Linked DNA regions of Homo sapiens. The protein of the gene in region 1 interacts with the protein of each later gene in a pairwise test. Each region holds a gene or a part of one and is shown in the gene's direction. Other genes may lie near its edges.

The links.
Region 2: the proteins of SLC13A4 (region 1) and CBLIF interact in binary tests that used the Homo sapiens proteins (3 or more experiments, as listed by UniProt).
Region 3: the proteins of SLC13A4 (region 1) and SLC35E4 interact in binary tests that used the Homo sapiens proteins (3 or more experiments, as listed by UniProt).

The regions. Positions count from the first base shown.
Region 1 is NC_000007.14:135,693,546-135,697,294, reverse strand, and holds part of SLC13A4 (solute carrier family 13 member 4), read left to right. Parts: intron 1-1,807; coding exon 1,808-1,927; intron 1,928-3,056; coding exon 3,057-3,158; intron 3,159-3,749. UniProt on the Homo sapiens protein: Sodium:sulfate symporter that mediates sulfate reabsorption in the high endothelial venules (HEV).
Region 2 is NC_000011.10:59,843,803-59,847,551, reverse strand, and holds the start of CBLIF (cobalamin binding intrinsic factor precursor), read left to right. Parts: upstream 1-2,052; 5' UTR 2,053-2,098; coding exon 2,099-2,177; intron 2,178-3,496; coding exon 3,497-3,673; intron 3,674-3,749. UniProt on the Homo sapiens protein: Promotes absorption of the essential vitamin cobalamin (Cbl) in the ileum. After interaction with CUBN, the CBLIF-cobalamin complex is internalized via receptor-mediated endocytosis.
Region 3 is NC_000022.11:30,633,470-30,637,218, forward strand, and holds the start of SLC35E4 (solute carrier family 35 member E4), read left to right. Parts: upstream 1-2,311; 5' UTR 2,312-2,981; coding exon 2,982-3,600; intron 3,601-3,749. UniProt on the Homo sapiens protein: Putative transporter.

The DNA.
Region 1 (3,749 bases):
AGGTGAAAACAGACCTGTGAATGTCAAGGCAAATATTAATGCTTAGGCTGAAGGCATAGATTTGAAGAGAGCGGCCTGCAGCGCTGGGGTCATGGGCGTGCCGCCTGTACAGGGACACAGGGCCACCATGCCCAGACAGGCGTCACGCTTGGTTTAATGCTCTGCTGTCCCTGCCTGGATATTCATAATAACCTTTGGGTAAAGGGGCCACATATTCATTTTGCCTCCTGGTAAGGGAAGCTACGGGAGTGGAGGAAATTACCTAGAATATACAGGGTAAGGAGAACAGAGGACATAAATATTAAGCTCACATATTTAACGGACAGAAGGAAACAATATCAGACAGCAGAGAGGGAAGGGAAATCTGGTGCCACTCTACCCAAGGGAGGAAAGTATTTCAAGAAAAAGGAAGTGCCTACAATATTTAATGTCAATGAATGATGATGCAAAGTAAGGATGAAAACGTATCCATTAGATTTGGTGATGTGGAGGTTACTGGTGATGTAGGCAAGAGGACCTTGGTCAAGAGGTGGGAGAAGCAGCCAGATTCTGGTGAGTTGAGGACTAAGGTAGAGGTGAGAAAATGGAGAGCTGGCTGTGAAGGGAAGGAGAGATGTGGGGTGATAATAAAAGGAAAGTAGGGGACGGGCACTGTGGCTCATGCCCGTAATCCCAGCATTTTGGGAGGCGAAGGCAGGCAGATCATCTGAGGTCAGGAGTTCAAAACCAGCCTGGCCAACATGGCGAAACCCCGTCTCTACTAAAAATACAAAAATTAGCTGGGCATGGTAGTGTGCTCCTGTATGTAATCCCAGCTACTTGGGAGGCTGAGGCAGCAGAATTGCTTGAACCCAGAAGGCGGAAGTTGCAGTGAGCTGAGATCATACCACTGCACTCCAGCCTAAGCGACAGAGCAAGACTCCGTCTCAAAAAAAAATAAAAATAAAAAAATAAAAGGAAAGTAGAGCAGGGTCAAGACGGAGTTTTCAAGATGGGAGACATTTAGATGCTGGTAGGGATGATCCAGATGAGAGGGAAGTTAAAGATCTGGGAGAAGGGATCACTGATAGAGGGATGTCTCACAACTTGAGGAGTTTTACGCCCAGCCCCAAAAACAGAGACCCAAGGAAAACACAGCATAGGTCATTTAGGCCTGAGCCTCGTCTAGGCAAAAGCCACAGCTCTCGCGTGGTCCATCCAGGCTCCCCAGGAAACAGCACTTGGGCTGAGGGGCCACAGCTCTGCCTGCTGATGAATGAGCAGTTCCCCATACAAATCCCCTCTACCCTGAGACCAGTGGATGTTGATAAAGATTTGGAGATTCCAAGTCCTGGTTCTCTTATGGGCACCGTTAATATCTAAAAACTTCATTAAGCCCTAAAGCTCCAGATTCTCCAGAATTGTGTCCCCCAATCAAAACTTACATTCCTTTGGTGATTTTAGAAACAAAGTATACCAAGCTGTTCCATTTTCTGTTGCCTTGAAAACCAGATGAATAAACTTAGCAGAATCTTTAAGGGCAAACACGTCCTGAGTCATTCTCTTGAGTGCAAAGTATATACACTTTAATGATATTAATTTTAGTTGTTTTGATTCCTTTTTTTAGCTAGTTTCATGATTCTTGTCTGGGCTCTGTACAATTGCAACTGTCAACTAAATGAGTCCTAGGCAACGTTTTACCATATCGTTATCATTATCTCCCCACTTAGCCCAGCTGTATGTTTTAGGGAGCATTTGGCATACTACCCCAAAATACCATATGGAAACCCTCCCTTTCTAATTGCTGACCTGGTTCTTTACCCTCCAGCCAGTATCCAGCCGCAGAGGTGGTGAACTTTGGCACCTGGTTCCTCTTCAGCTTCCCCATATCCCTCATCATGCTGGTGGTCAGCTGGTTCTGGATGCACTGGCTGTTCCTGGGCTGCAAGTGAGTTCCAGGGCCCTTTCAGCAAAGCACTGAAGCCCCCCTGTTGATCCAAAGGCCATGGCATGGGCCCTGGATGGCTCTGTGCAAGGGGGACTGCCAAGTAACCACAGAGGATGCCCAAGGAGAATGCAGTGGTCTGGTCTGAGAGTCAGGTGCTGTCTCTTCTAGACATTCTAAACATTTGTGAACTCTGCACTTCACTCTCAGCTCTACAACGAAATGTTCTTAATTCCAACTAAATGGTTAGAGAGCCTGTCCAGTTTATACAAAGTCTGAGGTGAAGAGTATTTAATGTCGTTTTATTGCTCTCAAAGCATACAGAGCACTTCCAATTACTCCAAGAAATAGGAAATAAAAAATATGACTCTAAGTAGAATTTGCATTAGGTTTAACTTTATAGGCATGGGTGATTTATACTTAGTAGCCTGAATAAAATATGCTCATATGCCTCAAAATAACAAGTCAGTCTACTCCAAATTTGATCAGTTTCAAACACATAAGGGAAGATAATATAATGTTTTGCTATTAGTCCATGTAACCCAATGCTCCCATTGGTCAAGAAATGTTCTCTGACTTTTCTTTTTACTCAGACTGTTGTCAAACCAATGATAACTATATACTTCTTAACTCCAGTATTGCTAACATAAAACTAACACTGTGTGTTCCATATACGCAGATGTTTGTGTGTTTGTTTGGCTAGAGACAAAGCTTCTCTGGAGTAAAAATGTTAGTTATACATCTAGACACATAGTGGAATAAAAGTTTTAGTTTATACATCTAGACACATATACCACATTACACTGATTATTTTACTTACGTAAAAGACAAGTAGGTAGAAATGACCCCACACGAATACACTTGCACAAGTCCCTGAGACATCACTTCACACCAATACACCAGAGACAGACCCAGATGGATATCCCCAGTAGGCTAGGGGAGAAGGTTGATGAGAGGCCGGATAACTTGGCAGATAAAAGCCATATGAATAGGTGGGGGATAGAGGGATAGAGCATGTGAAAGAGGAGAAAAGTGACCACAGCAGGCAAGCGGTTTAGTATTTACCTAATATTTGATCTCTGGGCCTCAGAAGTGTGTTTTCTTTAATCATTTGCTCATTCTCCCTTCTCAGTTTTAAAGAGACCTGCTCTCTGAGCAAGAAGAAGAAGACCAAAAGGGAACAGTTGTCAGAGAAGAGGATCCAAGAAGAATATGAAAAACTGGGAGACATTAGGTAAAAATCAGCCATTCCTCTTCCCTCCTTCTCCAGCAGAAACACAGCAGGTAAAGTGAGCACAGGAGCAGCCCTGTTCCTGACAATCCCTGACACTGGGAGAATTTTCCACAACTCTGAATCAGGCCTTTAGAAGATGCTATTTAGTGCCAAAGCCAAGCTGGCCCAGATTTCAGGTGGCCACCCTTCCCCTTTGCTCTATTCAGAGTCCAGGGTATAGCCATGGCATGGGGTGGAGTGCTGACCATGGAGCAGACAGAGGCAGAAGAAGGGAAAGACAGCACAGCCACCCTCTTGGAAAATGTGAATTCCTTCCAAAGCCAGGCCACCTCTCATTGCTCAGACGCGCCACCACAGTGGTGCGGTTATCACTCCCAGGGAGATGGGAGACTCTGTGCTATATTTAGGGTATAAGGCAGTATCAAAGACAGACTTGGAGAGAGAGCGTCCAAGAAATCACTAACCAACCCTCAGCCACTTCCATCAGCTTTTCCACAGGGACCCAGCTTCCTATTTAGTGCTATTTCTCCTTTTATGGCAATTGGCACATACAACTTTGCATAAAACAATCCAGGTAGACACTGTCTTATT
Region 2 (3,749 bases), on another chromosome or scaffold:
CCTCCTACTCCTTCACACAGCATGCAAGGCTGTCCACCAAGTAGATGCCAACTGTCTTTCCAGCCTCATCTTCCACCATGTACCATGTATTGGATATATATTGCTGCATAACAAGTGACTTTAAAACTTAGGGGCCTAAGACAACATTTATTATCCCACAGTTTCTGTGGGTCAGGAGTCCAGGGAGGGTTTACATGGGTCCTCTGGCTTAGGAGGGTCTCTCCCAGGGCTGCAATCAAGATGTCAGCTGGGGCTGCCTTCATCTCAAAGCTCACTGGGGAAGGGTTCTTTTCTCCCTGAATATCGGCTGGAGGCTACTCTCAGGGGCCATATGTGGGCTTCTCCATAAGGCAGCTCACACTTAGCAGCTGCCTTCATGAGAGCAGGAAGGGCAAGAGAGAGAAGGCAAGCAAGAGGGAAATCGGTCTTTTGCAACCACATCCCATCACCTTTGCTGCATTATATTCATTATAATAGAATGTGGCCCCAGGCCAGCCCACACTCTAGGGAAGAGGACTACACAAGGCATGAATACCGGGAGGTGAAAACACAGGGCCATGTTAGAAGTTGTCCAGCACACCCCAGTATGTACCCTGTGCTCTCATCTCACAAAACTCACCCATGTTTCCCAAGGGGGAAAAAATGCTTTATTACCCATGTCTTACATTTGCTCATTAATTCACTCATTCAAAAAGTATTTTATTTCTACTGTGAGCTAGGTAGTGTTGTAAGGGCTAAGGATAGAGCAGTGAGCCAAAGAGACAAAGCCCCTCCCTCGTGGAGCAGACATTCTAGTAGGGAGATAAACAAACGATAAACAACCACACACTTAGTGCGACAGAGGGCAATGAGTTATAGCAGGCGAGGGGCATGAGGGGTGTCAGTGGAGGTGAGGATGTAGGATCTTATGTAGGGTGGCCTGGGAAGGCGTCTCTAAAAGCTTACCTCTGAGCAGAGACATGAAGGATGTGAGGAAGCCACCATGAGGCTATTTAAAAGAAGAGGGTCCTGGGCTGAGGGGGACATCATGTGCAAAGGTAGCTGATGTGTTCAAGGGGCACAAGAAGTTCTGTGTGATGGGAGCGGTGTGAGCAAAGGGGAAAACGCCTGGAGCTGAGGTCAGAAAGGAAACCAGGAGCCAGATCTTCTAAGGTCTTATAGGTCATGAAAAGGGCTTTGACTTTTATGCTAAGATGGGCGCCACTGGAGAATATCCCCTTAAAATGAGCTACTTTACATGCAGGAAAAAAACAAACAAAACTCCTTTCTTTATAATTTCAACATACCATTTTCAGTTCTCCCTTATAAAGAAGTATAATTTGCATTATAATGTAGCTACACATCTGAAATATGTATTCTTAATGGATCTCACATTTTCTAATTACTTACTTTAAAAGATAATATCTGAAAGCTTTGGGTGTTTGAGATGGCTTTTATCTCCAGATAAGGAAAGAGAAATCAAACAAAACCATTTCTGGGAAACCGAGGTCCATTTCTTGCCTAAAGTCAAACAACTTCAAAGAGTCTAGGCTAGAATCCAGGTCCAGGTAGACATCATTAATTTCACAAAGCCAGATGTCACCTGGCAGATCCCTGCCTGAGAGCCTAAAAGGACATGTTGTAAAGCAGGTGTCTAGGATCATAAAATGAGCTGATGCCTATGAATGGCCTAAATCCCAGTGAAGTAGTTACTAAAAAGCAGCCTGGTAACTGATTGGATACAATAAGGGCTAGAAGAGGTCTTGTTGATACTAGCACATTATCCAAACTTCCTGATGTCTGACCCAGGCCTTTGGTAAAGGACATTTTCTCAACATTGCCTTCACTGCATACCCAGCCCCAGGTTTCTCATATGACTGTGCAACCTAGAAGTCACCTTCAGACACCTTGGAGGGTCTATAGTCGGTAAACTTAGATAAGCAAATGAAAATTTACTTACTTGTATCAGGAAAGGAGAGGTCAGCACAGGGGCAGTTAGGAGAGGCTGGGTTGGGGACAGATTATTTAACAAAGGGAAGCACATATAAGAGAAGGTAAAGAAATATTCCACTTGCAAATCGCGGTACCTGTGGATGAGAGACATAGACGAGAGAGTGAGATGGCCTGGTTTGCCCTCTACCTCCTGAGCCTTCTCTGGGCTACAGCTGGGACTAGTACCCAGACCCAGAGTTCATGCTGTGAGTATGATGTTTTTCCAAGGAGGTCAGGGAAGCAGTTGCCCTGGGGAAGGGGCTGTGACCTCTGACACTGAGTGGTTGAAAATAGCAATCACTATAGGAATTCCAAAATGGGTAAGTCTGAGTGTGATTGTGTGCTGTTCATCCTTCCTGACTTAATAGCATAAGTTCTTTGAGAGACAAGTCTATATGTTTTTTATTAAGAGAGATGGGGCCAGGTGCAGTGGCTCACACCTGTAATCCCAGCACTTTGGGAGACTGAAGCAGGAGGATTGCTTGAGCCCAAGAGTTCAAGACCAGCCTGGGCAACATGGTGAGACTCCATCTCTACAAAAAAAATAAATAAATAAAAATAAAAAATTAGCTGGGCGCAGTGGCATGCACCTGTGGTCCCAGCTACTCAGAAAGCTGAGGTAGGAGAATCGCTTGAGCCCAGGAGGTCGAGGCTGCAGTGAGCTATAATCACACCACTGCACTCCAGCCTAGATGACACAGCAGCACCCTGTCTCAAAAAATCAATAAATAAAAATAATAGAGATGGAAGTACTACTGCAGGAATAATGGTTGATGGTACAAAGACAGACACTCAGTGGCTATTGTGACCAGACACCACTACATACTAGTGAGAGATTTTGGTACTCACTGAGGATAAATTATATCCCAAATCTTTAATACTCTTCATGAAAGAGTAAGGAAAAAAATGAATGCAAGGAAATCAGTGATTTCCAGGAAAGTGATAGAAACTATGAGAAATGTCATGAGCCATATTGCTTGAAGTTACTAAATTTAAAAATCACTTTCTTAAGGATATGGATTATTTGAGAAGATGTAGAAACTAATTGTCCTCAAAAGTAAAATCTCACCATTTTCTCCATTTCTCTTTAGTGACTTAGGACACTAATGCTAATCAAGTGTTCTCCTAAAAGGCATCAAAGATGGCCAGGCGAGGTGGCTCACGCCTGTAATCCCAGCACTTTGGGAGGCCAAGAAGGGTGGATTACCTGAGGTCAGAAATTCGAGACTACCCTGGCCAACATGGTGAAACCCCATCTCTACTAAAAATACAAAAATTAGCCTGGCGTGGTGGTGCACACCTGTAATCCCAGCTACTCAGGAAGCTGAGGCAGGAGAATCACTTGAACCTGGGAGGCAGAGTTTGCAGTGAGCCGAGATCGTGCCATTGCACTCTAGCCTGGGCAACAAGAGTAACACTGTCTCAAAAAAAAAAGAAAGAAAGAAAAAGCATCAAAGACACGGGGATAATGTTTTTGAGAAGGAATGAGGGTTAGAAGGTGAGTAAATGGCTTTCCTCTTCTCAGCCGTTCCCTCAGCACAGGAGCCCTTGGTCAATGGAATACAAGTACTCATGGAGAACTCGGTGACTTCATCAGCCTACCCAAACCCCAGCATCCTGATTGCCATGAATCTGGCCGGAGCCTACAACTTGAAGGCCCAGAAGCTCCTGACTTACCAGCTCATGTCCAGCGACAACAACGGTGAGACATCTGAGCCGCTCGCACTCTCCCTGAATCTCACACATCACATACCACCTCCAGATTCCAACTCAGCGTC
Region 3 (3,749 bases), on another chromosome or scaffold:
CAAGCTCTGCCTCCCGGGTTCAAGCGATTCCCCTGCCTCAGCCACCTGAGTAGCTGGGACTACAGGCGCCCACCGCCACACCCAGCTAATTTTTGTATTTTTAGTAGAGACGGGGTTTCACCATGTTGGCCAGGCTGTCTCCAACTCCTGACCTTAAGTGATCCGCCAGCCTCGGCCTCCTAAAGTGCTGGGATTACAGGCGTGAACCTCTTCGGCCAGCCTCCCAGCTTATTTTTGTATTTTCTGTAGACACGAGGCTTTGCCCTGTTGCCCAAGCTGGTCTCCAACTCCTGAGCTCAAGTGATCCTCATGCCTCAGCCTCCCAACGTGCTGGGACTACAGGCATGAGCCACTGTACCCAGACTATTGTTTTTTACTAAAGGAGACTTACTAGAAAACTGACAAAATCCAGGCTGGGCGTGGTGGTTTACGCCTGTAATCTCAGCACTTTGGGAGGCCAGGGTGGGTGGATCACCTGAGGTCAAGAGTTTGAGACCAACCTGACCAACATGGTGAAACCCTGTCTCTACTAAAAATACAAAAATTAGCCGGGTTTGGTGGCGCACGCCTGTAATCCCAGCTACTCGGGAGGCTGAGGTAGGAGAACCACCTGAACCTGGGAGGCAGAGGTTGCAGTGAGCTGAGATCGTGCCATTGCACTCCAGCCTGGGCAACAAGAGCGAAACTCGGTCTTGGAAAACAAACAAACAAAAAAACCTGACAAAATATCAAAGATAATTATAACCCTTAGGGGTCCCAGATTTCTCTTCCTCAGGAAATGGCAAGGGGGTGCGGGAGAGGGGCCATCCGCTTTGGCTGGCTTAGTTTCCTTTCCACAACCCTTTCTGGAGAAACACTAAATGCCACCATTTTTTGGTCCTTGGCCTGGAAATTTCCCTATCTGCACCCCCTGCGCTGTAGCTTAGGCTATTCAGCAGAGATCTGCAGGCTCCAGCGGGCGTCGGACTTACAGAGGCAAATGTGACCATGTAAATTCCCAGGCCCACCCGTGACAGAGAGCCTCTGATTCAGCAGGCCTCCTTTGAGGCTGGGGATTTTAAACCCGCGTCCTGTGATTGGGATGGGGATTGAGGGCTATATTCAGCGCCTGGCCACCAGAGGGCGCAGCGGGCTGGGTTCAGCGGTACCCCTTTGAGATCTTGTGTCTCAAGACAGGTTGCTGTCATCAAGGATTTGCTGGTTAGACAACAGGCAAGGGGTGAGCTGGGTCCTCTTGGGCAGGAGCCTAGTAGGAAGACCGACAACAGGAAAGAGGCTCACATCTGATACTGGGCACATGGCTGGGCCTTGGTCCTCGTGCTCCCGGACTTCAGAGCTCAGAGGGGCCAGGGCCTGGCCTAGCCTGGAATCTGGATGGACCTCTTCTGCCCTGGGGCGCGCCGTTTACCCAATCCTGACCTCAGAGAGCGTCTGTCGTTCTGGTGGGAAAACCGAGACCCAGACAGGAACAAGGGCTCAGTGGCAACCGCTCTGCCTCCCAGCCCAGGGCTCTGTCTTGCCGGGGCTGGGGCACAGGGTGGACCCCAGGAAGTTCTGCTATGAGTCAGCTTCGAGTGCTCAGGGGACCGGACAGAGGCTGCTGGCCGGGGAAGGATGCCGGCCGGCGGTACCTACTTCCGCAGCTGTGGGTATCCCTGCCTGGTGATTCAGCTTCCCTCTGAGGGTCCCCAGGGGGCGCCGCCCTGGACTGGGAGGCTGGGGAGGATGCTGGGGCTACGGAGGGGCGATGGAGGTGCCTTAAGGGACCCCGTAATCCAGCTCTGCTGGATGCTGAGGTCCCACGAGATAATTGTGGCCAGAGATCAGGTGGGCGTAAGACTGGTCCTAGGATGGGGGCTGTGGGCCCCTCCTCACTACCCTGCTTCTTGAAGATAGCCTGGGCGGCTGTGCGGGATACCCCAGTGTCTCCAGCAATGCGCGTTCATCTCCATGGAGGGCTCGCCTTGGCGCTGGGTGGGGAGCGACTTGGTCCCCCCTGGCGGCGAAGAGAGGCTGACCACGCCAGCTCGTGGGGGGGTCTACTGGGCAGATGCGCAGGCCCCGGGCGGAGGAGGGCTGATGGGGGAAATGCCAGGCCGATGGGGGAGGGGCTGTGAGCGGGAGGCGTTGGGGCGGGGCAAGACCGCCCTCCCGGTCCGGGGGCGGGGCTTGGCCTGGGGCGGGGCTTGGCTGGGGTGCTCAGCCCAATTTTCCGTGTAGGGAGCGGGCGGCGGCGGGGGAGGCAGAGGCGGAGGCGGAGTCAAGAGCGCACCGCCGCGCCCGCCGTGCCGGGCCTGAGCTGGAGCCGGGCGTGAGTCGCAGCAGGAGCCGCAGCCGGAGTCACAGCCGCAGCCAGAGCCGCAGCCAAAGCCTCAGAGAGCAGGAGTTGGAGCGCAGGCCCTGCTGGATCCGCGCCTAGCTCGCCGCCAGGCACCGGCCGGAGGACGGGCCGTGGTGTCAGCTCACTGCCCGGGCGCTGTGGGAGGCAGCGAGCCCGCGACCCCCCGGGCCGGGCACCGCCAGGCGCGGAGCCCAGATCGCCCCCCTGCCAGGCCTGGTCACGGCCAGAGCACGCAGGAGTTCCCAGGGTCTGGATCTGCGCGCACCCTAATGACCTGGGGACTGAAGAGAAAAAAGGAACGAGGATTTCATCTAAAAGCATAACGTGGGCACTAGGCGAGGAGGAAAGTGGAGACCACCTGGCACGGGGCAGAGGTGCCTGGAGCCCACGCTTGAGCATCGGAGACCCTGGCATCCTAGCAGCCGCGACCTTGGCTCTGCCCTGTCTGAGCTGGAAACACAGCTTAGCTTCTAGACATCGCTGGCACAGGCCTGGCACAAGTAAGCAGTGTCCTCACCTGTCTGAAACGGGACACGGGGTCGGAGGAACCAGGATCTAGCCTGGCCCCAAGCGGAACTCTCTGGTGGCCCAGAGGTCGTCACTGGGGAGCCCGCCTCCTGCCCTAGCCTCACTGGTGCGGATGTGCCGCTGCCCGCCGGAGCACCATGATGGCAGGATGACCTCAGCCGAAGTAGGAGCAGCAGCTGGTGGTGCTCAGGCGGCTGGGCCCCCCGAGTGGCCCCCTGGCAGCCCTCAGGCCCTCCGGCAGCCTGGCCGGGCCCGAGTGGCCATGGCAGCACTGGTGTGGCTGCTGGCGGGAGCCAGCATGTCAAGCCTCAACAAGTGGATCTTCACAGTGCACGGCTTTGGGCGGCCCCTGCTGCTGTCGGCCCTGCACATGCTGGTGGCAGCCCTGGCATGCCACCGGGGGGCACGGCGCCCCATGCCAGGCGGCACTCGCTGCCGAGTCCTACTGCTCAGTCTCACCTTTGGCACGTCCATGGCCTGCGGCAACGTGGGCCTAAGGGCTGTGCCCCTGGACCTGGCACAACTGGTTACTACCACCACACCTCTGTTCACCCTGGCCCTGTCGGCGCTGCTGCTGGGCCGCCGCCACCACCCACTTCAGTTGGCCGCCATGGGTCCGCTCTGCCTGGGGGCCGCCTGCAGCCTGGCTGGAGAGTTCCGGACACCCCCTACCGGCTGTGGCTTCCTGCTCGCAGCCACCTGCCTCCGCGGACTCAAGTCGGTTCAGCAAAGTAAGTGCCTGGGTGGCCAATTGAGAAGGTGGGGGTCCGGGTGGGTGCATGGCCTGGATGGCCCTGTGAGGGGTATGGCTGTTGTCCCATTTTACAAATGAGGAAACTGAGGTTCATGGCTGTGGAGGAAGCAGAACTGAGGCTCAGAG